5 separate regions of the Homo sapiens genome follow, and all the other regions are linked to region 1. The links come from fine-mapping of genetic effects on gene expression. A gene starts in region 1. Each other region holds a variant in brackets. All regions are shown on one strand. Distances are from middle to middle.

The links.
Region 2: its variant is fine-mapped to the expression of TMEM216 in spinal cord (GTEx, PIP 0.96).
Region 3: its variant is fine-mapped to the expression of TMEM216 in subcutaneous fat (GTEx, PIP 0.91).
Region 4: its variant is fine-mapped to the expression of TMEM216 in testis (GTEx, PIP above 0.99).
Region 5: its variant is fine-mapped to the expression of TMEM216 in fibroblasts (GTEx, PIP 0.98). The same link has a PIP of 0.9 or more in hypothalamus, lung and skeletal muscle.

The regions. Positions count from the first base shown.
Region 1 is chr11:61,390,104-61,395,204 of GRCh38, reverse strand. It overlaps TMEM216 (transmembrane protein 216), which reads right to left and starts at 2,618. Exons shown (of 5, transcript NM_001173990.3): 1 at 2,540-2,618; 2 at 1,873-1,974; 3 at 1,229-1,321. The coding sequence starts at 2,573. RefSeq lists an enhancer at 1,892-2,853.
Region 2 is chr11:61,060,108-61,065,208 of GRCh38, reverse strand. It overlaps LINC02954 (long intergenic non-protein coding RNA 2954), which reads right to left. Exons shown (of 4, transcript NR_186234.1): 3 at 3,334-3,498. All of the region lies in intron 1 of LOC105369325 (a long non-coding RNA gene), which reads left to right. Among named protein-coding and RNA genes, the nearest start is that of LINC02954, 7.3 kb to the right of the region's middle. RefSeq lists enhancers at 3,199-3,438, 3,789-4,028, 3,094-4,293. The variant C/A (reference allele first, on the strand shown) is at 3,047.
Region 3 is chr11:61,481,667-61,486,767 of GRCh38, reverse strand. It overlaps SAXO4 (stabilizer of axonemal microtubules 4), which reads right to left. Exons shown (of 14, transcript NM_145017.3): 2 at 4,850-4,986; 3 at 4,340-4,457; 4 at 3,960-4,113; 5 at 1,952-2,080; 6 at 1,367-1,430; 7 at 857-969; 8 at 365-424; 9 at 158-244. The coding sequence starts at 4,958. Among named protein-coding and RNA genes, the nearest start is that of SAXO4, 3.1 kb to the right of the region's middle. RefSeq lists enhancers at 1-665, 3,917-4,211. The variant T/C (reference allele first, on the strand shown) is at 1,937.
Region 4 is chr11:61,472,351-61,477,451 of GRCh38, reverse strand. No RefSeq gene overlaps it. Among named protein-coding and RNA genes, the nearest start is that of SAXO4, 6.2 kb to the left of the region's middle. The variant A/G (reference allele first, on the strand shown) is at 2,701.
Region 5 is chr11:61,437,597-61,442,697 of GRCh38, reverse strand. It overlaps SDHAF2 (succinate dehydrogenase complex assembly factor 2), which reads right to left. Exons shown (of 4, transcript NM_017841.4): 2 at 4,850-5,073; 3 at 4,585-4,694. Among named protein-coding and RNA genes, the nearest start is that of SDHAF2, 10 kb to the right of the region's middle. The variant A/C (reference allele first, on the strand shown) is at 2,860.

The DNA of each region.
Region 1 (5,101 bases):
CAGGAGCTTCAGACCAGCCTGGGCAACAAGGCAAGACACTGTCTCTACAAAAAACACAAAATTAGCCAGGTATGATGTCGCACACCTGTGGTCCCAGCTACTCAGGAGGCTGAAGTTGGAGGACTGCTTGAGCCCAGGGCTTCAAGGCTGCTGTGAGCTATGATCGTACCACTGTACTACAGCCTAGGTGACAGAATGAGACCCTGTCTCAAATAAATAAATGTTTAAAAAACAAAATCTGGCCAGGTGTGATGGCTCACACCTATAATCCCAGCACTTTGGGAGGCCAAGGCGGGTGGATCATGAGGTCAGGAGATCGAGACCATCCTAGCCAACATGGTGAAACTCTATCTCTACTAAAAATATAAAAACTTGCCGGGCATGGTGGCAGGCGCCTGCAGTCCCAGCTACTCAGGAGGCTGAGGCAGGAGAATTGCTTGAACCCGGGAGGCGGAGGCTGCAGTGAGCCGAGATGGTGCCACTGCACTCCAGCCCAGGTGACAGAGTGAGACTCCATCTCAAAAAAAAAAAAAAATCCAACCAGGTGCAGTGGCCCACATTTGTAATCCCACCACCTTGGGAGGCCGACACAGGCAGATCACAAGGTCAAGAGATCGAGACCATCCTGGCCAACATGGTGAAACCCCGTCTCTATTAAAAATACAAAAATTAGCTGGGAGCAGTGGTGCACGCCTGTAATCCCAGCTACTCAGGAGGCTGAGGCAGGAGAATCGCTTGATCCCGGGAGGCAGAGATTGCAGTGATCCGAGATCGTGCCATTGCACTCCAGCCTGGGGACAGAGTGAGACTCCATCTCAAAAAAAAAAAACAAAAAACTCCTACAGAGATCCTTATTCAGAGAATTGTTAGGGATCTTAGTACTGATCTGTACAGGATACACTGCCTGCCCTGACGTGGAGTTACAACTGAACCTATTCCCCTAAGAATACTAGTGAGAAGAACCAAGCACTCTTCTTGCAGTTAGGCAGCTGGGAAGGAATCATCTAATATCCCATTCTATTGCCCATCTCTAGCCTTACAGAGCAACAAACAGGTAAATCTTGACCCAATGTATGAAGCAGCAACTTGAAACTTCAGAGACGGAGTAATAGGATATACAGATCCAGTCTATGATAGTCAACCTAGGTTATGTACTTTTCTTGTTAATCAAGTTACAGATACCAGCTTGTCTCATAAGGAGTGGAAATATTCTCTGGACAACACTTACCAAAAAACAGGCGAATTACTTCAATTCCAAGATAAAGGAGGAGCATCACCACATCCAGTACTAGGTTAGCTGTTGGATATGGTAGCAGGACACCTGCCAATACAAAAGCCAGAGTTTGCAAACAGCATATAACAGCACCCACAAGAACTGCCACACACTTGGGAAAAAAGAGGACATCAGTCTCAGCTTTCCATGAACTAGTTAGTGAGATGTGGGCATTATTACAGCAGCAGGATACATAAACTCACAATGCGACTCAGGCTCATTATTATGGTGTTTTACTCCTAACTCCAAAAGTCTCTGGGGACTCCACTCTCCAAAATGATTGGATGTACATGGGTACACAGGCCACTGAATAGTTTCTAAGGGTCACCAGTGGGCTTACAGTGGAGCTCAGCAAAGAGCAGTGATGTGGGCAGAGTCAGAATGGAGAAGCCCACATTTCTCAAACTCAAGAAATTCTTGCTGAGGGGCTGCCTATGGAATCATACTCAAAGAAGCCATCTGATGAGGAGGCCTGCCTTGCAGCGACAAAGAACTGCAGGGGGCAGAAAAGAACGGAAAATAAGAAGGTTCTTGGTAGGAATTGGCTCTGAGCTGAAGTGGGGAAGGGATGCTGTCGTCAAGCCCCAAGCCTTCCTTACCTTTATACAGAAATATGAAAAGTTCCAGCAGGAAATAGGTAGCATTATACCACCCGTTCAGAAAGAACAGGATTTCCAGCGGGGTGGAGGACAACCGTTTACCTGAAAAAGGAGCACAGAGAAGTGGGATGGGCCGGAAGGCAGCTCCCTCTCTGCTCGTATGGGTTGGTGTCTAACTTTGGGGAAACTAGACGCTGCAACTAATGGGACCGGCCACTCAGGGGCACTTCTGGTTGCTGATAATGAGGGGGCGAGGGTACGGGGGTGGGAGTGGAGGGGGCTTCCCTCCTTTCCTAGGAATCACCGTGAAACTCGACTCTTCGGCTTCAGGAATAAAAGTCAAGAGGTAACTCGCAGCTGACAGACATCTCAAAGATCTCACTCTGTCACTATTTGGGAGGGGAAGTTGGGGCGCAGAGACCAACAGATTCGCACCTGAGCCAGCCTAGAAGTGGCCCAGCCAAGGATCTGCGTTTATTTGAGCTGTGCACCTTGAGACCTTCAGGCACCCAGGGTGGGCGGGACCGCGGAAGCCGGCTTTGGACCAGGGAGGCGCGACGTCCCTAACGCTAGAGAATGGAGGGTTTAGGTCAAGCTCTGGGACAGAGGTGGGAGGGAGCGACCGAAGGGAAAGGGACCAGCGACTCACACACCTCCGGAATCTCACCTCGCGGCGCCATCTTCAGTCCCCGTGGCAGCATACGCTGCCACAGCGGCTCCCGGAGCAGCGCGGCGCTGCCGGAAACAGGGACGAAGCGGCCTGGGTTTCCGGCCCCTCTGCCCGCCCGCGGCACTCTGTGGTCACCCGGAGCTGGACGAGCTCGGGCCTGGCCGCAAGTGGCCCTCGCTCGGATGTCCCCTCTCCAGACCTAAGGGATAACGGTGACCACCCACGACGCCGTCGTCTGCAGGACCTCAGGGGTGCGGGGGAGGACCTTGGAGGCTCTCAGACTACCGGGCGTTGGGCGGAAGTGGCCAGTTGTGATAGTGTTACCAGGAGATTGGCAAATAGGTCCTACTCCCACGATTCTCTTTTTTCAACGGAAGACAAGAAAAGGTGTGAGCGACGGATCTCTGCAAATGCAGGGTGGAGTTAGCATTGGTCTTTTCTGCGGCCGATTTACCTACCAGGTAGAGACACGAAGGAAATAGAGCGTCCTTTCCAGGAACACACATAAATAAAATGAAACGAGTCACCACGCGATCCATAAAGTGGTGCAGTGGGAGCTGAGAGGACAAAGTGCTCCCAGGTGGAAATCTAAGTTAGTTTCCAAGAGACGGCCTGTGAGCTGGGCTTCAAAGCCTGCCTGATCCGGATTTGCAGCGGTAAAAGCGTGTTGCTGGCCGGGCTTAGTGGCTCACGCCTGTAATCCCAGCACTTTGGGAGGCCGAGGTGATGGATCACCTGAGGTCAGGAGTTCGAAATCAGCCTGGCCAACATGGCGAAACCCCGTCTCTACTAAAAATACAAAAATTAGCCGGGCGTACTGGCGCGCGCCAGTAGTTACAGCTACTTGGGAGGCTGAGGTAGGAGAATCGCTCGAACCCGGGAGGCGGAGGTTGCAGTGAGCTGAGATCGCGCCACCGCACTCCAGCCTGGGCGACAGTGAGACTCTGTCTCAAAAAAAAAAAAAAACAGAAAACTGTGTTGCTGCAGGCAGGGGAGTGCAAAAAGAAGGGTTTTGAGAGGACTCAGGTTGACTTGACTTGGCTGTTAGCCCGTTGTCAATCAGGGTAAAGCAGGAAACAGATGGCACGCTCCAACCAGGTAGCCTGAGGAAGGTGACTAAGCTTTATTTTATTTATTTCATTTTATTTTTGAGACGGAGTTTTGCTCTTGTAACCCAGGCTGGAGTGCAATGGCGCTATCTCTGGTCACTGCAACCTCCGCCTCCTGGGTTCAAGCGATTCTCCAGTCTCAGCCTCCCAAGTAGCGGGGATTACAGGTGCCCCCCACCACACCCGGCTAAATATTTTTGCATTTTTAGTAGAGACGGGGTTTCACCATGTTGGCCAGGCTGGTCTGGAACTCCTGACCTCAGGTGACCCGCCCCCCCCCCCCCCCCCCCCCCCCCCCCCCGCCTCCCAAAGTGCTGGGATTACAGGTGTGATTAATGCCCCCGGCCAAGAGTGACTAAGCTTTAAGCAAAGTGCTGTACCCCTGGCTAATTGGGATGTGGTGGGGCGGTAATTGTTACTTCTAGGCTTAAAAGGGAAGGGCCTGAAACAATTCCCTGAAGCTGGAGAGTAATATGTGCATAGAAGGCCTCCCACTAGGAACCCTCACACTCTAGGAGGCTAGTGGATAAATATAGCAGGGACCTCCATTTCCCTTCTCCCATCTCTGATCTCTGCTTATGTCTCCCGCTGACACAACTTAACTGCAAGCTGGAGGGCAAGGAAGCCCTTTAGGGTAAGTAGGAAAGCGCAGAGCACAGAGGTTAAGGTGGAAAGGAATCCAGATCCTGCTTCCCCATCTTCGCTGCCTGCAAGACAAGAGACATTAGAAAAGTTCCTGCTCTGAGCCTGATATGGAAAGAAAGTGGGCCAGCTGCACCTGGCGCGGTGGCTCACACCTGTAATCCCAGCACTTTGGGAGGCTGAGGCGGGTGGATCACTTGAGGTCAGGAATTCAAGACCAGCCTGACCAACATGGTGAAACCCCATCTCTACTAAAAATACAAAATTAGCCGGGCATGATGGCACATGCCTCTAATCCCAGCTACTTGGGGGGCTGAGGCATAAGAATCGCTTGAACCTGGGAGGCGGAGGTTGCAGTGAGCTGAGACCAAGCCATTGCACTCCAGCCTGGGCAACAAGAGTGAAACTATGTCTCAAAAGAAAAACAAAGAAAGTGGGCCAGCTGCTTGTTTTTGTAAATAAAAGTTCTTTGGAGAACGTCATCATGGTCACTTACTTACATGTTATTATATATTGCAGCTTTCATGCTATTATGGCAATGTTAAGTAGTTGCAACAGAGACCACATGGCCCACAGCCTTAAATACCATCTGACCCTTTAAGAAAAAGTTGGCTAATCTATGTCAGAGTATGCCACAACTTCATAGATGCCAAAAGCTGACAGTGAGGCCAAATTACTTATGGCAAACAGCAGGAACATCAGCATGGCAACCTGGGGGCCCCCTGCTCCCAAGTCCTATGAGTGACACAATGACCCCAGATGGTGCTGCACTCAAGGAGTTATGCCACAGCTTGGTGGAGCCCAGAGC
Region 2 (5,101 bases), 330 kb after region 1:
CTCAGACTGATTCTCTGCATAATCGGTGTTTCTTTTTCTTTTCTTTCTTGCTTTCTTTTTTTTTTTTTTTTTTTCGAGACAAGGTCTCACTCTGTTGCTCTGGCTGGAGTGCAGTGGCACAATAATAGCTCACTGCAGTCTGAACCTTCCAGGCTCAAGTGATCTTCCCACCTCATCCTCCCGAGTAGTTGGCACCCCAGGCACACACCACCATGTCCAGCTAATTATTATTATTATTATTTTTTTTTGTAGAGACGGGGTCTCGCTATGTTGCCCAGGTTGGTCTCAAACTCCTCGGCTCAAGCAGTTCTCCTGCCTTGGCCTCCCAAAGTACTGGGATTACAGGTATGAGCCACAGTGTCCGGCCATAATCAGTGTTTCATACCATCAGATCTGGTACATGGATTGAAACCTGTTTGCTAATTCCAGTCTACATGGAGCCAACCACTATGAAAACCTGGAAACTTGGTTGGGTTTTTTAGCTTTTATCTTGGTCTCTGGCTTGATTGAATGTAGATGCTCATGGGGTAGAATCTGAGCGCTCAAGACACGACCACCCAGTGCCTCCTGAAATATCACTGTTAGTCACTCCTTAGGGTGCCCTTTCAAAGTAGGAAATGCGGGAATCTTTTTGAATAGCACCTTCGTGTGGATTTTATAGCCTAAGAAAGGGTCCTGGGATAGCAGCAGAGCTGGGAAACTTTGGGAAGGGAGAGAAGGAAAGATGGAGGGCTCGACCCTCTCTGCAGACTTCCAGCCGGGGGACCAGCCCTGGATTGAAAAACAGGCAAGTGGCCAGGCGCGGTGGCTCACACCTGTAATCCCAGCACTTTGGGAGGCCGAGGCAGGCAGATCACCTGAAGTCAGGAGTTTGAGGCCAGCCTAGCCAACATGGTAAAACCCTGTCTCTACTAAAACTACAAAAATTGGCTGGATGTGGTGGCACGTGCCTATAGTCCCAGCTACTCAGGAGGCTGAGGCTGGAGAATCACTTGAACCTGGGAGGCGAATGTTGCAGTGAGCAGAGATCACGCCACTGTACTCTAGCTTGGGCAATAGAACGAGACTCCGTCTCAAAAAAAAAAATATAGTAAAATAGGCAAGCAATGATGAAGAGGACACATAGCAACAGGGCCTCTCACATCCACAGGTCACTTCCCAGTGTACAAAGCGCTCTCATTTAAAAGATGAGGAGACAGACACAGAGAAGCTCAGCCAGGCATCAGTGCCACACAGCAAACAGGCAGAATTGTCAAATGTGACCCTAACACCCAAGACCTTTCCACAGCTGAGTGAAGTGTTGTCATAGATCTCCTAGTTGTCAAATTACTTTCCTGCTTTTTTTTTTTTTTTTTTGAGACAGAGTCTCGATCAGTTGCCCAGGCTAGAGTGCAGTGGCGTGATCTCGGCTCACTGCAACCTTCGCCTCCCGGATTCAAGCAATTCTCTTGACTCAGCCTCCCGAGTAGCTGGGACTACAGGCGCCCGCCATCATGCCTAGCTAATTTTTTATTTTTGTAGAGACAGGGTTTCACCATGTTGGCCAGGTGGTCTTGAACTCCTGACCTCAGGTGACCCGCCTGCCTCGGCCTCCCAAAGTGCTGGGATTACAGGCGTGAGCCACCACCGTGCCCCACCCTTTTCCTGCTTCTTTCCTGACCACACCATCAGCAGGTCTGTAACTGCTGCTTCTCTGCAGCGTCCCAGAACTAAGCACGTGAATGGCACACGTGAAATAGAAACATGATGTGTCTTTCTCACTCGTGGTCCATGGGGCTTGGCCCCATCTCCCCAACTGGAGGGAAGCTTCTCGTGGCACCATGATCTCGGGCTGTCCCCTCTGCCCACCTCCAGCCTTCCTAACAGTGCTCCATGGTTCAGTGTGGCTTCAAGTTGAAAACATGGTGGGCAGGAGAGGTTTTGGGGGCTGGGAGTAAAGTGAAGTGGTTGACCTGGCCACTGTTTTTTAAGCCTCTGCGACTGGTTTGGTTTAACACTGAAGTGGAATCTGTGTATTAAATGCTGTAATGCCTTAAAATTAACTCCCCCGAGAGCATCTGCCTAATTTTTCTCCTTTGGCTCTATGTAAGTTGCCTTGGCAGGGTCTCTGCGAATCTTAGTCTTCCATATGAAAAAGTACTGCTTGCTAAGTATAGCTTATATCCTGAGCCCCAGGGAGAAAATAGAGAAAAGATTTCCGGTAAAATCAACCTCCGTAGAAGTTCAGTAGAGGGACCTCTTCACACTTGCCCCGGTTCTGATCCTGCATGAACAGTACTTTATCCTCTCCTCCTCTTCCCTGCTGCAGTCTTATGCTCCATGCAGTCCCTCTTCCAGGGAGCTGCTGGACTCATCTCCACGCAGTAGGAGTCTGGCTGCATCACCACTGCCCTCCTCTTACTGGAAACGCTTCAGTCCAAGTTCTGTAGCTCTGTGCCCTGACTCTGCCCTGTCTCACACACACCAGGCAGGTCACGTTGGTGGATTAATGGGACTGGATGAAGGGGACATCAGGCAGTGGAAGTGGCTGTACGGAAACAGGGTGAAGGCTACACCCCATCTAAAGAGAACCAACCCAACTCTGATTATTGCCATGGAAGAATATGGCCTCCATGTTTCCAGATCCTGATTGTTCAACATAATTTTGGGAATCTGAGTTTTTATATGAAATAGCCTAATTTTCAAGCGTTGGTTTATATATATATCTTAAAACACTATATGGGCCATCAACAAAGCGTGTCTGTGGGCCACACACCCACATGTTGGGACCACTTTTGCCCTTTGCTGTGTGGCCCCAAGATGTTGGCAGCTCTCCATAAATGCCATGCCCTTTCCTCTCTGTGACTTTCTCCGTCCTGATCCCTACGCTGTCTTTGGCAGGTCAGCTTGTCCTCATATAGTGCTTGTAACAGCTATGTGACTTTGGGCCAGTTACTCACCATCCTGATGCCTCAGTTCCCTCCTCTATGAAGTGGGAATAAGGGTGACTGGGAAGAATACGTGAGTTAACAAATGCAAAGTGTTAGAAAACGCTGCACATATTGTT[C/A]ATCAGTGTCATCATCGTCATCATCCTTATTATTGTCCTCCATCTAGTCTTGGCTGTCACCTCTGAGATGCCTGCCTAGACTCCTTGAAAGCAGGCTGTCCCCACCCCACCCCAATTCTGTAACACCCCAATCCCCACAGCCATCTCACTGCATTATCTGTTGGCTTCTCAGTACGCCCTGGACTGTGGGCACCTTGAGAGGAGGAATATCTTTCTGTCCATACACAACTTCGAACAAACACTTGGCCCAGAAGAGGCCTCCATAGAGGCTTACTAAGTGGATGCACCTTTCATGAATGGTGGTCTGGAAGCCTGATACCACTTGATATTTCCATCCAGATGTTATTGTTACCACCCAGGCCAAGAATGTGCTTCTTCTGGAGGCACAACAAGGTGGGGCTTGTCTGGCTGCACCACAGCATAATATCTATCCCTCCTCACAGCTCTGCTCTCTGATGGAAGCAAGGAAACAGGAAGTGAAATTGACAGGCACTGACCAACCTGGTTTCACATCAGGGGTGAATGAAAAGGACGAGCCCCCCTCCCTAGGGTGGGGCGGGAGGGAGGTGGGAGTGGGGGTGGGGATGGGACATGAGTCATGATGTGTCACTGAGATTTTTTTGGATGCATTTTTCAGTTTCAAAAGCATGAGGCGTTATTACTATGGGTTGAGAACCTGGAGTGCCAAATGACTGTGTCCCAAACAGGATGGCGCAATTGGTGTCTGGTAAAGTACCTGGGAGTTTTCTTTGTTCCAAGTGGGGTTTGTGGCTCAGCACAGGGGCCTTACAGTGATGTTATGGTCCCCATACAGTAGCGATCCGGAAGATCTGTGCCCTGACTAATTCTTCTGCCCTTGAGCTGGTGTTTAAAAGAAAAAAAAAAACCCTCTGTGGTCGCAACCAAGATGTAATGATAGACTTTGAGCCCCGAGAGTCTCACCCAGCCTACTCCGGCACGTTTTGGGATGCTGCGAAACTGAATTGAGGTGCCTGTCATCATAAGAGAACTGAACGAGTGGGGGTAAGAATTAAGATCAGCAAGAGCTGTGTTTCTCGCTGGTTGTACAAACAGGCACTTGCCGGAAGCTGCCTCAGTGGGAACAAGGTGGAGCTTCATGAGGGCCCTGTTGAGTCTTTGCTGGGAATGATGGAGGTTTTTTCCATTTTCTCATTTTCCATTACTCTAATATGGTTATAACCTGGGACTTTTTGTGTGTGGGGTCCTGGAAGGATGTTTGTGATATTCAGGAGTTCTGGTGGGAGTCGGGTAGGGTGTGGATAGGGTGAACCTGAAACTTGCCCCAAATTTGTGTTCCATTCATCAATACCAATTACCCACCACATCTTTTAGCATTTATTCAAGAAATGCATGTTGTGGCTGGAAGAATATGGGATTTGGAGTCCACTGTGCCTGGTCTTTCCTGGACAACTGGGTTGGACAAATTCCTCTACCTCTCTGAGCCCCGTTTCTTCATCTTCAATAATGCGTTTGTGATGTAGAGCTTTTGGGAAATAATTAAAGGGATGATGTGCAGACAGGTCCAGACAGACTGACCACAAGGCTGGAGAAGGTCAGTCTTAGGACCCTCCCAAGGCCATTTATCTTTTTTTTTTTTTTTTTTTTGAGATGGAGTCTAGCTCTGTCGCCCAGGCTGGAGTGCAGTGGTATGGTCTTGGCTCATTGCAACCTCCGCCTCCCGGGTTCAAGAGATTCTTGTGCCTCAGCCTCCTGAATAGCTGGAATTATAGGCGTCTACCACCATGTCTGGCTTATTTTTGTATTTTTAGTAGAGACAGGGTTTCACCATGTTGGCCAGGCTGGTCTAAAACTCCTGACCTCAAGTGATTCACCCGCCTTGGCCTCCCAAAGTGCTGGGATTACAGGCACCCTTTATCTAATTTTATTTGTGTATTATCATATTTTTTAAAGAGGGACCCCCAAATTGTATAGGCTTCAGGCTCAACAGAACCTGGACCCAGCCTTGATCTTGTATCTTGAATAATGAAGAACTGGCTCTGGGAGTAAGTGCTGGAATCCTGGCTTCATCTGTCG
Region 3 (5,101 bases), 92 kb before region 1:
AGGCCCAGGCTCTCTTCACCCTCCACCTGAGGGCCTACCTCCACATCCCTAAATATCCTAATTCTTCTCATTCTTCAATGCCTGACCCAAATGCCACCTCTTCCCAGAAACCTCCCTGTCTTCTCCCTTCTCTGAGCAAGACGCCAAGGCCACTCACTCTGGGGTTCAGAATCCTTTCATTCCCTCGGCTGAAGGCTGTTTCCCGCTTGGAGCCTCTGGCCAACACAGGTAGGAACTCATCTCCCTGGAGGGAGCAAAGCAGCCACTGGCACCAGGATGTGGCTGCCTCCCCCACCACCTTCCAGAGCCATGTTCTAACTGCTCCCCGCCAGGCGGTCCCCAGCCTCCCCCTAGCTCAGCTTACATGTAGGTGAGTCTTGGGGAGGAAGTCTGACTTGGTGACACTCTGGCCTGGGAGGAGGGCCTGGAAATAGGCCCACAGAGGATGTCAGCCCCGCAGAGGCAGCCTGGGCCCCTGGTGGCTCCCACCCACTCTGCCTCCAGGCCACTGCTGTGCTGAGCACAGAGGAGGACTCAGCTCAAATGGGCATCACTGAGAAAAGGGAAGTGTTTGGGGAGAAGACAGGGGAAGGCATGACTCTGAATGGGACCAGCAGGCCAGGGCTCTTGTCTGAACTCTGAATGACATTGGCTACACCTCCTTCATCTCTTTGGACCTCAGTCTTCTCATCTATAAATGGGGGACTTGGACCAAAGCAGTGGTTTTCACCTAAGCTCTTTCGTCTTGTGTTTGAACAAAGGGCTCTGCAGCTCACATTCTTTAGGAAAGCTAGAAACCCTGAGACTGGAGGGCTTCAAGCCCCCTAAAGTTCTAGCAGGAGCCCAGCCGACTTACAGGGTCCCCAGGGAGGGCCTGTGAGGGCGGTTGGAAGACAATGGGGCTCTGGTGGGACTGTTTGGTGAAGCCACTCCCCTCCTTTGCGCCGATCGATTTCTTCTGCAAGAAATCTGCAAAAGAAATGCCCTGTGTGCTGCCAGGCCACCTGGCCCACCCATGTGTCCTCCAGAGGCTCAGTGTCCCAGCAGGTGCAGAGGGAGTGGATCCCAAGATCCTGGAGACCTGCGCCATGAGGATCGTGGGTGGCAGGGTGAGGATTCCAGAGTCCAGGCCGGAGGACAGGAGAGGGAGCAGCAGGAAGGGCATGCACCGGCCAAGCCACCCTCCTGAGAGGCCCAAGGTACTGAGGTCAGCCCGGGAGAGGCGCTTCCCTCCAGCCACCTGTGCATCCTTCTTTCTTCCACTGGTGCCTTCTCAGTCCTAGGCCAGCTCCAGGGCCCCTGGGGTAGCAAGTAGGGAGGTGGATTGGAAGATGGGAAGGGAGCTGTGAGTTCAGACAGGGCCTACCTGGCTGGTCTAGAGGGTCCCTGAGATACTTGGAATTGTACTCCGACGTCATGAAGCGTGGGCCCTGGAACAGAGAGGTTGGAGGAGTGGGGGCACTGACCCACCAGGGCCCCGAAGGCGTGTGGCGGCGGTGGAGTGGCGCCTCGGTTCTCTGTGCTCTGAGGAAGCCTGTGTGGGCCAGTACAGCACCCTGGACACAAGTCTCTGTGGGGTGGGACATCGCAGGGCCAGGAATTTCAGCACAAAGCACAGTTCCCCTGTGACTATGAATACCACGTCACACCCCACACCAGACTCCTGGTAATGAGTGGGGGGCCCAGAGGGACCGAGACCAGGAGGGGCCGTGAGCAGGAGGAGGAAGGCTGGGGGAAGAGGAGTAGCGTTAAATCGCGAGAAGCCACATTGAGGCTATTTTGGAAATAGCCAATATCAAATCCTTTGCTCTCCCATCTTTCTTGGCGCCCTGAGCCCACCCTGAGCTGGCTTCTTGGGTGAGTCAGTGCAATACTTGTCTTGAGGTGGGAGGAAGAGGCGGGTGTGGCCCCTCTGCCCCACCCCGAAGCCCTTAGC[T/C]GGGCTGCCACTCACATGTCGGAAGTTCTCCCGCTCCAGCGGGTCCTGGCCCTGCTGCTGGTGGAGCAGAGGCACTTCCCTGGGCTCCAGCCCCGTGATGGCCTGAGGCCCGTGCTCCTGGGTGTCGAAATGGACCTTCCGGACCTGGGAGGAAGAAGGGCCAATTACAAGTGAGGGGGCGGCAGTCACTCCCTGACTCTGCTTCTGCCCTTGACCTTTACAGAGCGCAGTATCTGCAGAGCAGCCAGAGGGGGTCCTTTTACAATGAAACCTGCATGTCCCCTCTCTGCTTAGAGCCCTGCAGCCTTCCCATCACACTCGCAGGGAATTCCACGTCCTCCTGGTGGCCTGCAAGGACCTGAGTGCCTCACCCTGCTCTAGCTGCTTGTCTCCTTTCTGTTCCCACCTTGAGGCCTTTGCACTTGCTGTTGGCACTGCCTGGACCACTCCTCCCTCAGACAGCTGCAACTGGAGGAGCTGGCCTCCCTCAAGTTTTTGTCCAGTGTCTCCATAGCAAGCTCTTTCCCGACCCTCCCGATTTGCAGTTGCAACTCCTTCGCTTCTAATTTATTTATTACTTACATTTTTTGAGACAGAGTCTCGCTCTGTTGCCCAGGCTGGAGTGCAGTGGCATGATCTCAGCTTCCTGCAAACTCCACCTCCTGAGTTCAATCAATTCTTGTGCCTCAGCCTCCCAAGTAGCTGGGACTACAGATGCAAGCCACCACACCTGGCTATTTTTTTTTTGTATTTTTTTGGTAGAGATGGGGTTTCACCATGATGGCCAGGCTGACCCAACAGCAGTTGGCCTCAAGTGATCCACCTGACTCAGCCTCCCAAAGTGCTGGGATTACAGGTGTGAGCCACCACGCCTGGCTTTATTTTTTTTTAGTCCAAGTCTCATTCTATTGCCCAGGCAATCTCAGCCTCACTGCAACCTCCGCCTCCCGAGTTCAAGCAATTCTCCTGCCTCAGCCTTCTGAGTAGCTGGGATTATAGGTGCGTGCCACCATGCCCAGCTAGTTTTTGTATTTTTAGTAGAGATGGAGTTTCACCATGTTGGCCAGACTGGTCTCAAACTCCTGACCTCAAGTGATCTGCCTGCTTCAGCTTCCCAAAGTGCTGGGATTACAGGTGTGAGCCATCGCACCTGGCCTCCAACTCCTTCACTTCTCTTCCTCCCTGCTTCTCCCTGTTGTATTTCCTAACCCCCGCCCCACCCCGCACTCCACCCGCTCTTATCATCTTCAAATATGAAGGAGATATTCAGAACATTCTCGCTGGATGAATGAATGAGTGTCCATTTTGGTGGTGGTGCTGATGATAAGAAGGGTGGTAATAATGAGGATAGAAATGAAAAAGATGGGGCTGGGCGCAGTGGCTCACGCCTGTAATCCCAGCACTTTGGGAGGCTGAGGCGGGCAGATCACGAGGTCAGGAGATTGAGACTATCCTGGCTAACACGGTGAAACCCTGTCTGTACTAAAAATACAAAATATTAGCCGGGTGTGGTGGCACATGCCTGTAATCCCAGCTACTGGGGAGGCTGAGGCAGGAGAATCGCTTGAACCCAGGAGGTGGAGGTTGCAGTGAGCCGAGATCGTGCCACTGCACTCCAGCCTGGGCAACAGAGTGAGACTCCATCTCAAAAAAAAAAAAAAAAAAAAGAAAAAGAAATGAAAAAGATGGGGTGAGGATGTCCATGGTGGGGGGACAGTGGTGGTAGTAGGGACAGTGATGGGGCTTGCAGGTGTGGACGGGAGTGTGAGGCTCATGGGAATGGGGACAGGGATGGGGATGGAAATGGAGGTGGAGGTAATGGTGGGGCTGGGGCAGGGAATAGAGGTGGTGGGGATGGTGGGGACAAGGATGAGGACAAAGGGGAGAAAGATGAGTGGACCCCATCCCTACAAGGTGGCTGCTCCATGCCCTGTCACCTCCACCTTGACCAACTGTTGGCAGTGCAGCCCTAGCCCCACCCCACCCTGAGGCTTCCCTCTCCTGGCCCTGGCCCAGCACTGACCTCCTTGGTGGGGGGACCCGCACTGGGCTTCTCCCGCCCATAGCCTGAGCTGGTCTGGCGCATGCTCCAGGGCAGGGGATGCTTGCCGTCAGGCACCTCCAGGGGGCGGTAGCTCTGGCTGGCCACAGACTGGAAATGGTCCTGGGCTTGTTCCCTGAGGGTGAGGAGGAGCTAGAACCCCAGGCCGCCTGCCTCTGTCCTCTGCTAAGGAGCTTCCCTCCTCCCTGCACCCTCCCACAGATGGCTCAGAGGTCCGCTGTGCCCTGAGTCACCCAGGACCCCCAGCCTAGGGCAGGCAAAGCTCAGGGTCCCCATCCAAGGAACCTGGAGTTGGTCTGATGAGCAGGGCAGGGGCTGGGAAGGGGCCATACAGACCGTACCCCCTGGCCGGGTTGTCTAAGGCCTCCAGACTGGCTTGGCATGAGACCACGGGCTGGAAATTTGATTTGTAGCCGGTGCCTACGTGACTGCCCACACGGGGCTTGAAATCCTCCCGACCTGCCAGAGGGGTAACGGGGAGACAGACCCCAAGGTCAAAAACAGGCAGGGCTTCCCAGGCAGGGCCAGCGTCCTCCGAGGGGCACAGGGGTCACAGTGACAGGGGAGGGCTCAGAGCCACGGGCAGGAGCTTTGCAAGCCTGCCCTTTCAGGACTGTGATGGCAGGAAATGGAGTGGGTGGGCTGGGGACAAGGTCAGTGTGGCAGAATCACAGTGACAGAATTGCAGGGACAGAACCAGAGAAGGGAGCAGCCGGGCAGGGCCCAGGGGACAAACGGATTCAGCAGTTGCTCTGCAGTGTGACAGCCAGAGGGTCTGCTCCTCCCTCAGAGAGAGCCCCTCCCTTCCTGCCCATGTCCTAGCAGAGGCTCCTGCGCAAAGGCACCCTCACCGTAGGCGGTGCAGTAGCTGGTGGCGTAGAATTTCAGGGGGTCCGTGTAGCCCCCCGAACTCATCTTCACATAAGGGGAGACGACCCCCAGGGGGAGTTTCCCCATCATGATGCTGTGGGGCAGGGCCCCAGGGGGCCTAGAAAGGAAGCACGGGGAGCCTCATGGGTCCCAAGCCTGGCTCGGAAGCCCACAGGGGCGAAGATCTGCCCCCCACCACCCACAACGCAGCTGGCCCCTTCTCCCAGGCCTCT
Region 4 (5,101 bases), 82 kb before region 1:
GTGCCAGAGCTGAGCTACGAATCACCTCATCATCGCTTTTCACTCCCGGCTCTACGTGGGAACTACTATAATCCTGCCCATGTTACATGTGAGGAAACTGCCTGAGGCCTCGCAGACAGGGAGGAGTGGAGCTGGGATCCAAACTCAGCTTTGACCCTGGAATCTATGCCCCGCCCTCTGGAACACACCAGCAAATTCTCCAGAAAGCGCCGGGACCTTAGCACTGGGCTTTTCCAAAGGGATGATTTTCCAAAGGGATGGGCTGCCCTGGCCAGATGGGCAACTGCCTCCTACTTTCTAGCTCTGCCCAGTCCTGGGCAGTAAGATTCCCGTTTCCAGCCGGGCACAGTGGCTCATGCCTGTAATCCCAGCACTTTGGGAGGCCAAAGCAGGCAGATCACCTGAAGTCAGGAGTTCGAGATCAGCCTGGCCAACATGGCAAAACCCCGTCTCTACTAAAAATACAAAAATTAGCAAGGCATGGTGGTGGGCGCCTGTAATCCCAGCTACTCGGGAGGCTGAGGCAGGGAGAACTCCTTGAATGCAGGAGTAAGAGGTTGCAGTGAGCCGAGATTACACCACTGCACTCCAGCCTGGGCGACAGAGCAAGACTCCATCTCAGAAAAAAAAAAAAAAGATTCCCCTGTTTCCCTCCCATACGAAGGCAGAGGCTACAGACACACTAGGTTAGCAGAGAGGACCCAGTGAGAGGACATGCTGGGTCTCAGCCCATAGAGTTCCTTGGCTGGGATCAGTGGGGTAGGCCCTAACAGGCTCCCGAGGCCAGAGCACACCACCACTGAGTGCTGAGTCCTGAGCAGAGACAGACATCTGCGCTCTGTGCTGGGCCATGTGGGCTGCAGTTCCCTAAAAGAGGATTAACTGAAGTGAATGAGCCACACACCACCAAGTGTGTGTCATTTTGCTTTGGTTGATGTGGGTCTTTATAGCCGCCCTCAGAGGGAAGCCAGGGCTCTTGTAGGGAAGAGACAGGTTGGCATACTTCAGCTTAATGGATAGAAAAGCCTCCTAACACACAAAATAATCCAATAGGGGAACAGGCTGCCCTGGGGGGAGTGAGTTCCCCATCCCAGGAGGCATGCAACAGCTTGACAGGATGACAATAAGAGCAAACTTTCACTGGTTCGTTAGGTATCAGGGACTGTTTCTAAGCACTTCCCATGATTAGCACAATTAAACTTCACCGCATTCCTACCTGGTGGGTGGTATCAGCTCCTCCATTTTATAGATGAAGAAACTCAGACACAGAGAGGCTGCGTAACTTGTCACAGGTCACACAGCTACTAAGGGGAAAAGCCATTATTTGAACCCAGACATCCTGACTTCAAAGGTCATGCTGGTGACCACTTTGATATTGCCTCAAAGGTTGAGCTAGAGGTTCTCAGATCTATTTTCAAAATCTGACCTCCTATGACTTTTTAAATCTCTTTTTAAACCTGATTACCTCTATAGAGAAAAAAAAATAAAAAGATTTTAAGAAAATGTTTATAGAGACAGGATCTTGCTTTGTTGCCCAGGCTGGTCTCAAACTCCTGGCTTCAAGGGATCCTCCTGCCTCGGCCTCCCAAAGTGCTGGGAATACAGGTGTGAACCACCATGCTAGGCCTAAAAATCCTTTTAAAGAGTTCACCCCTCTCATGGTCCTCAGTTTGTGCTGGGCACTGCTGGGTGAAAAATTCACAGAAGAAAGGTCTGAAATTGTTCGAATCAGCTAAGATGATTGAGAAATGGGAAACAGATCCCTGGGATGCAGCTAAAGGCACTGAGCCCTCCCAGCCCAGGAGGCTGGGGGTGGCAGGGAGAGGGTAATTATACTCCTACTTTTGAAATTCCCATGCTGGAGGCTGGGACAAGCCTAGAGTAATGTTTCTTGGCTTCAGGTGATCTGAGGTTACATGCCTGCCCCTTTCTGAGCCTTTTCTAGGCTTGAGTTTGAGGTCTGGCTCTGGCACAAATAGTGCTATGTGACCCTTCTTAATTAACTGCCTCCCTCTGATCCTGTTGCCTGTGAAGAGGGGGTTGAGCCAGGATAGGAGGTTTGGCTTGCTTTAGTTTGAGATGTGTTGTTTGGCCTGGAGAACTTGGAGCTCTGTCTTCATATACTGAAGTGATGGCTGGTTCCACGTCCCCTCCCCCTGGGCCCCTCACCTGCCATCTGTGACATAGCAGGACCCCAGCCTACCCCCTTCCAAGGTCCTTCCCCTCTGCCTTATTACAGCGGGGCATGGAGGGGAGTCGGCCTCATGCCAACCCACACTCAGCCTGGCCTCTAGGCCTGCTGGACCTGCACAGGGAGTTTCTCCCAAGCCAGACTCCAAGGTGCCCACAAAGGACACAAGGGCTCACTGAACCCCTCATTCTGCCCCCAGAGTACTGTTTCCCAACCCAGATTCTTCTGAGCCCACCAACAAAGCTCACCCAGGTGAGATGCCCCAAGCTCAGCTGCTCCAACTGACCCTTTCAGGGGAGCAGTTTGAAGCTGGGACGCAGCATAAAGGGGATCATGGCAGAGAAGAGCTGACTGGGAGGACATCAAGTCTGTGAGGCCCTGTCTTCCCTGCGATGGGGAAGAGCATGGAGCCCTGGATTCGTGCAACCACCTTTCTGTCTAGTCCTGGGAGTGGGGGCTGCCCTGCTTCATGGGCTCAGCTGTGTGAGCACCAAGGAGTGATGGGTGAC[A/G]TAATGACCGTGGGGGCGCAGGTTGGGTCCAGGGCGTGGTCTGCAGGCAGGCCTGTCATCGATTTTGCCCATTTCCAGTTTCTCTGCTCTGTGACTTGCAGTGATTAAGGCAGGAGAGCTGCCCAGGACTGGGGCCCCCCTTCCGAAAGTGCTTTGGGGGTTCTATTCACTGAGCTGTGTCATTACCAGGAACTGAAATAGCCCAAGTCTAATGGCTAAGTCCCATCTCTCTCTCTTTCGTAAAAGGAAATGATTCCCCTGATGACCGGATTGCTTTCCCTCACAGCCTCCCACAATCCTGGCCTCACTTGTGGTTCATTTCTCCCCTCAGTGGGCATTTCCTGGAAGACTCTATCCTGTGTATCTGATGGCTGTTCTGTTCCTGCCTGTTCTGTTCTTTTACTGTCTCCTCTGGGTGAACTTGTTGATCTCACACAAGGTTTAAAAATTCATGACTCGCGGGGAAGATGAAATGAGATGAGGCAGAAAATAAGAAGCCATTCCCAATCCTCAGATGGAATGAAGATATTCTTGGCAGAGATGAGCAAGGAACCAGGACAGGGGTCAAGGGGGTGGGTTTCCAATGCACAGAGATCTGGGTTCAATTCTGCAGCCCTGCCTTTATGAGGTATGTGCCCTTGGACAACTTCCTTAACTTCTCCGAGCCTGTTTCCTTGGCTGTATGATGAGGTCACAGTAGAACTTTAAGAGACTTAGGCTTGGAATACAGAAAAGACAATATTTACATGCTTAGCACACAGCCTGGCATAGAGAAAGCACTCAAGAAATGTTTATGATTATCATTGCATTTTCCTGCCTTCCTTGCAGTTAGATAAGGGCCACATGGCTGGTTCTGTGGGTGGAATTGAGCAGTGCCACTCCCAGTCTGAGTAGTTAGAGGTGGGTGTGAGTTTTCCATTCTCTGTGGGTAGAAATCACACTTGGGATGGAAGAACCAAAAGATGGAAGCAGGCTGGATCTCTGAGTCACTGCATGGAGTCAGCTGCCCTGGAGCTGCTTTTCCTGCAGCACACTGGGATGTGATAGAGAGATAAACCTTGCTGCTTTAAGCCTCTAAGGTTTGGGGTTTTGTTTGTTACTGCGGCATAAGCAAAGAAATGAAGATTTGAGAACTTCTTAGGAAATAAATTAGGATGTGATTCTGTATTAGTCAGCATTCTCTAGCAAAACAGAATGTGCACACACACACATACACGAGAGACAGAGAGAGACAGATTTATTATACAGAATTGGCTCTGCCTGGGCCAGTGATGCCTGTAATCCCAGCACTTTGGGAAGCTGAAGTGGAGGGTTGCTTGAGCTCAGGAGTTCAAGACCAGCCTGAGCAACACAGTGAAACTCCGTCTCTACAAAAAAAAAATTTTTTTTAATTAGCTGGGCATGGTAGCATGTGCCTGTAGTCCCAGCTACTTGGGAGGCTGAGGTGGGAGGATCACTCAAGCCCTGGAGGTTGAGGCTGCAGTGAGCCATAATCGTGCCATTGCAGTCCAGCCTGGGCAACAGAGTAAGACCCCATCTCAAAAAAAAAAAAAAAAAAAGGAATTGGCCCACGTGACTATGAAGGCTGGCAAGTCCCAAGATCTTCAGGATGAGTTGGTTGGCAAGCTGACGACCCAAGAGAGCTGATGGCTTAGTTCCAGAGTAAGTCCAAAGGCTTGAGAACTGAGAGAGCTGATGTAGTTCTTGTCTCAAGGCCAGCAGGCTTGAGACTCAGGAAGAGCCAGTGTTCCCAGGCGAATCTGAAGGCAGGATAAAAGCCTGTGTCTCAGTTTGAAGGCTACCAGGCAGAAAGAATTGCCTTTCACTTGCGAGAGTGTAAGTCTTTTTGTTGTATTCAAACCTTGAGCTGATTACATGAAGCCCACCCCGGTTAGGGGGACAGACTGCTTTACTCAGTTTACCAATTTAAATGCCAATTTCATCCAAAAACATCCTCATAGAAACACCCAGAAGAATACTCGATCACATATCCAGGTACCCAGTCACCTAGACAAATTGAGACACAAATTAACTGTCACATTCAGGCATATGAAACTCACTGGAAGCAGACAGATGAGAGGCCTACTGAAATTTTGAGAAAACAGTAATGCCCAAAAAAAATGGGGCTTTTTTTGTTTGGTTTTTGTTTTTTTTTTTTTTTTTTTAGAGAAAGGGTCTTGCTCTGTCACCCAGGCTGGAGTGCAGTGGCGCAATCATAGCTCACTGTGACCTCAACCTCCTGGACTCAAGAGATTCTCCCGCCTCAGCCTCAAGTCGCTGGAACTACAGGCATGAGCCACCGCCCCTGGCCATGGGCCTGGTCTTTAAAAAGATTGTGACTATTTGAAACTTAAAACTTCCATGGGCAGGAAGTGGGCTGAGAAATCCACACAACCCTCAA
Region 5 (5,101 bases), 47 kb before region 1:
TAGAAGGAAAAGAGGGAGAAAACAAAGCAGAAGAAATAGCTGAAGGGGTAACAGCTGAGAATTTTTCAACAATAATAAAAGATATGAAAACACAGATCCAAGATGCCCAGAGAACCCAAAAGCACGATAAATATCAAATGCCTACATATATAAATATCAAATAAATACCTATGTATATAATATTGAAACGGCTAGAAACCAAAGACAAAATATTGAAAAGATTCAGAAAGAGAAGACACATAAAAAGGAACAAAGATACAGCAGACCTCGTCACAAACTATGGAAATGAGAAAACAGCACATGGTAACACCGGAGGGAATATGAAGCTGGTGATGCACTGAAGGTAACCAGAGCAAAACCAAAGTCCAAACCCAGCGGAACTCCTGACTACCCGATCTTGTACACTAAGAGCTGGCGGTAGAAGTGTTTCTATTTAACAGAAGAAAAAACATTGTGACCCTCGAATTCTATATCCAGTGAAAGTATCTTCCAAAATGGAAAATCTGGCCAGGCATGGTGGCTCACACCTGTAATCCCAGCACTTTGGGAGGCCGAGGCAGGTGGATTGCTTGAGCTCAGGAGTTTGAGACCAGTCTGGGCAACATGGCAAAACCTCATCTCCACAAAAAATACAACAACAACAAAAATTAGCTGGGCATGGTGCTGCCGGCCTGTAGTCCCAGCTATTCTGGAGGCTGAGGTGGGAGGATCGCTTGAGCCCAGGAGGTGGAGCCTGCACTGAGCCATGACTGCACCACTGCACTCCAGCCTGGGTGACAGAGTGAGATCCTGTCTCAAAAAAAAAAAAAAGGGAGGAGTGGTGGGGGGCGGAATTTGAAGAGACATGTCACCAAATATACATAAAGGGCTGATAAGCCCTTGAAAAGATCCTCAATATTATTAGTCATTAGGGACATGCCAATTAAAACTATAGTGATGTACCAATATATACTTCTTGGAATGGCTAAAAACAAAAACAAAACCCTGATAATACAAAGTGTGGGTAAAGATGTGGAACACCAACCCCTCCCTTCACATCCAACACCCTGGCAATCACTGATTTGTCCCTGTAAGTTTTGCCTTTTTCAGATTATCATGTAAACAGAATCACATTCTTGGAGTCCAATTATGTACTGAGTATGTACTTGTTGAGTCTGATCTTTTTTTTTTTTTTTTTGAGATGGAGCCTCGCTCTGTCACCCAGGCTGGAGTATAGTGGCATGATCTCGGCTTACTGCAACCTCCGACTCCCTGGTTTAAGAGATTCTCCTGCCCCAGCCTCCCAAGTAGCTGAGATTACAGGCGCCCACCACCACGCCCAGTATTTTTAGTAGAGACGGGGTTTCACCATGTTGGCCAAGATGGTCTCAATCTCCTGACCTCGTGATCCGCCCACCTCAGCCTACCAAAGTGCTGGGATTACAGGCGTGAGCCACCGCGTCTGGTTGAGTTTGACCTCTTTTGCTTAGCACAGAAGCTGGCAAACTATGCCCTGTGAGCTAAGAATGATTTTTAGAGATTGGGTCTCACTCTTGCCCAGGCTGAAATGCAGTGGCGTGATCATAGGTCATTGCAGTCTCTGAACTCCTGGGCTCAAGTGATCCTCCCAAGTAGCTGGGAATACAGTGTGCACCACCAAGCCCAGCTAACTTATTTTTATTTTTGGAGATAGGGGGTCTATGTTGCCCAGGCTGGTCCCAAACTCCTGGCCTCAAGAGATCCTTTGCCTCAGCCTTCCAAAGCGCTGGAATTATAGGTGTGAGCCACTGCATCCAGCCAAGAATGATTTTTTAATGGTTGGGGAAAAAAAATCAAATGTATATTTCATAACTGGTGAAAACAGTATGAAATTCTATTTTCAGTGTCCACAAATAAGGTTTTATTGAAACACAATCATATTCGTTTACCTGCTATCTGTGGCTGCTTTCATGCTACAAAGGTCGAGGTGAGTAGTTATGAGAGGCTGTATGGCCTGCAAAGCCTAAAATATTCATTATCTGTATTTACTATCTATATTTACCTATTATAGAAAAAGCTTACTATCTATATTTACCTATTACAGAAAAAATGTACTAAAAGTTTTATTTATTTATTTTTGAGACAGAGTCTCATTCTGTCACCCAGGCTGGAGTGCAGTGGCCCAATCTTGGCTCACTGCAACCTCCACCTCCCAGGTTTAAGCGATTCTCCTGACTCAGCCTCCCGAGTAGCTGGGACTACAGGAACCCGCCACCACACCCAGCTAATTTTTTGTCGTTTTAGTAGAAACGGGGTTTCACCGTGTTAGCCAGGAAGGTCTCGATCTCCTGGCCTCAGGTGATCCACCCGCCTCGACCTCCCAAAGTGCTGGGATTACAGGTGTTGACTCACCGCGCCCAGCCCTATTTATTTTTTTGAAAGAGTCTCACTCTGTCGCCCAGGTTGGAGCACAGTGGCGTGATCTTGGCTCACTGCAACCTCTGCCTCCCGGATTCAAGAGATTCTCTTGCCTCAGCCTCCAGAGTAGCTGGGCGCACCACCACACGCGGCTAACTTTTGCATTTTTAGTAGAGACGGGGTATTGTCATGCTGGCCAGGCTGGTCTCGAACTCCTGGCCTCAAGTGATCCACCTGCCTCGGCTTCCCAGAGGAGGAGCATGTGATCTCATGCTGAAATTACAGGCATGAGCTACCACACCTGGCCCTATTATAAAGTTAAACATATACACTTACCACATGACCCAGCAAATCCTTCTCCTGAGTATTCACTCAAGAAAAACTAAAACCTATGTTCACAAAATCTGTATGCAAATGTTTACAGTGGCTTCATTTATAATCACCTAAAGCTGGAAATAATCCTAATGTCCCTCAGCTGGTCAA[A/C]AGATGAACAGACCATGGTACATCCACACAATGGAATATTACTCAACACAAAAGAATGAACTATTGATACAAGTAACAACAAGGATACGCATCTCAAATGCATTATGCTAAGTCAGGGCAAACTTGTTCTGTAAAGGGTTGGAGAGTAAATATTTGGACTTTGTTGGCTTTCCAGTGATTGTATAAGGCTCCAGACTCTGTCTTATCACTCTTCATACCTGGAACCCATAGACAATGGCTGCTACTTTCTGATACAAATATTGAGTGGAGACACAAAAACAGCAGTCCCGGAGTGTGGCAGAATGAATGACACGTCCCCTAATATCCAGTTTTCATCGATAACAGAATCTCCAACACAGCTGGGCAGATGGAATAGACTATATTATTTTTCCTTATGGTTAGACGTAGCCAAGTAACTAAGCTGTGGCCAATGGCAAATAAGTGGAAGTATGCTGGATAATTTCCTGAGCGGGATCTACAAAGGAGGGGTATGCACTTCCACACACTTTTTCCGGGCTGAAATATGGCTGTCCTGGATCAAGAAGTAGAAAACACATGCTAGGATGAAAGAGCAGCAAGTAGGGGGGACCTGGACCCATGACTTTTTGAAGCCCCTCTATGAGCTCTGGAGTGTGCCTTCCTCTGGACTTCTGTCATGAGAAAGACAGTTCTACCTTGTTTAAGCCATTACTGTTTTGGATGTTTTTTTACTCATAGCCAAAGTTAATCCTAACTATACACAGTTAGAATTCATTCCTCATAAAGGTAGTGCCTGAATGAAACTTTTTTTTTTTTGAGACATAGTCTCACTCTTTTGCCCAGGATGGAGTGCAGTGGTGCAATCTCAGCTCACTGCAATCTCTGTCTCCCAGGCTCAAGCGATTCTCTTGCCTCAGCCTCCCAAGTAGCTGAGACTGCAGTTGTCCGCCACCATGTTCGGCTAATTTTTGAATTTTTGGAGAGATGAGGTTTCGCTGTGTTGGCCAGGCTGCTCTCAAGCTCCTAACCTCAAGCGATCCATCCGCCTCAGCCTCCCAAAGTGCTCAGATTAGAGGCATGAGCCACTGCGGCCGGCCAGAATGAAACTATTGAGGAGCTTTGGCTATGCAGACTTAGTTGTCTGATTCCACTCCATTCCCAGAGTGGTTCTTCTTCAACCTTTGATACTGTGAGCTTCATATACCCTTCCACTAAATTCCTTTTTGCTTAAGTGAGACAAACAAGTTTCCACTCTGTCTCGCAAATAAAGAACTTTAACTGATAAATTTTGTACACTTAACAAAAATTTGAACAGTGTTTGGGTTGAGTGTCTACTTCATGAATAAAAGAAAAAAATTATAAGCCAGGCACAGTGGCTCATGCCTGTAATCCCAGGATTTTGGGAGGCCGAGGCGGGCGGATCACCTGAGGTCAGGAGTTCGAGACTAGCCTGACCAACACAGAGAAACCCTGTCTCTATTAAAAATATAAAATTACCCGGGTGTGGTGACACATGCCTGTAATCCCAGGTACTCAGGAGGCTGAGGCTGGAGAATCGCTTGAACCTGGAAGGTAGAGGTTGCAGTGAGCCGAGATCATGCCATTGCACTCCAGCCTGGGCAACGAGAGTGAAACTCAGTCTCAAAAAAAAAAAAGAAAGAAAAAAATTATCTAGGATACAATTCTAGACTCAAATCAGCCTAAACTGTCCTATTTTCACATTATGCTGCTTATCATACCCAGTACCTGTGGCCCAGTAGTAAATATCCCAGTCATTACTAGGCTCGTTAATCAGGCGGTCATAGAGGTTCAGCTGCTTTTCTGTCATGTGCTGCAGATGTTCTTTAGCAAAAAGACTAAAAACAAGAAAGAAAAAAAGAAAAAGAGGTTGAGAAGGCTGTGTCTAATAAAAGAGAAGTGACACCAAGACTCCTACTCCTGGGAGTCTCTCTGAACCTACTCTGGCTCAGGAAGCTGCCCGATTTAAAAAAAAAGACTCCTAGTCCCATACCTAAGAAGAATGCAGTTTTCCAACATTCCCCTCTTTCTGCTCTCATAGAGCAGGCGGGCTCTTTTGGTTTCTATGGATTCATCAGTTCTCTCCTGCCATGGAGGCAAAGGGATTTCAATCATGTCCTTTTGGGAATCTGTTGGGCTGTCACCTCTGTAGAAGCGTCTGAATGATGTCACACTGAGCAAAGGAGACAATAGGCTGTGCCTTGACAGAGCAAGCATCTGAAATGAACAAACCACAAACATCTTT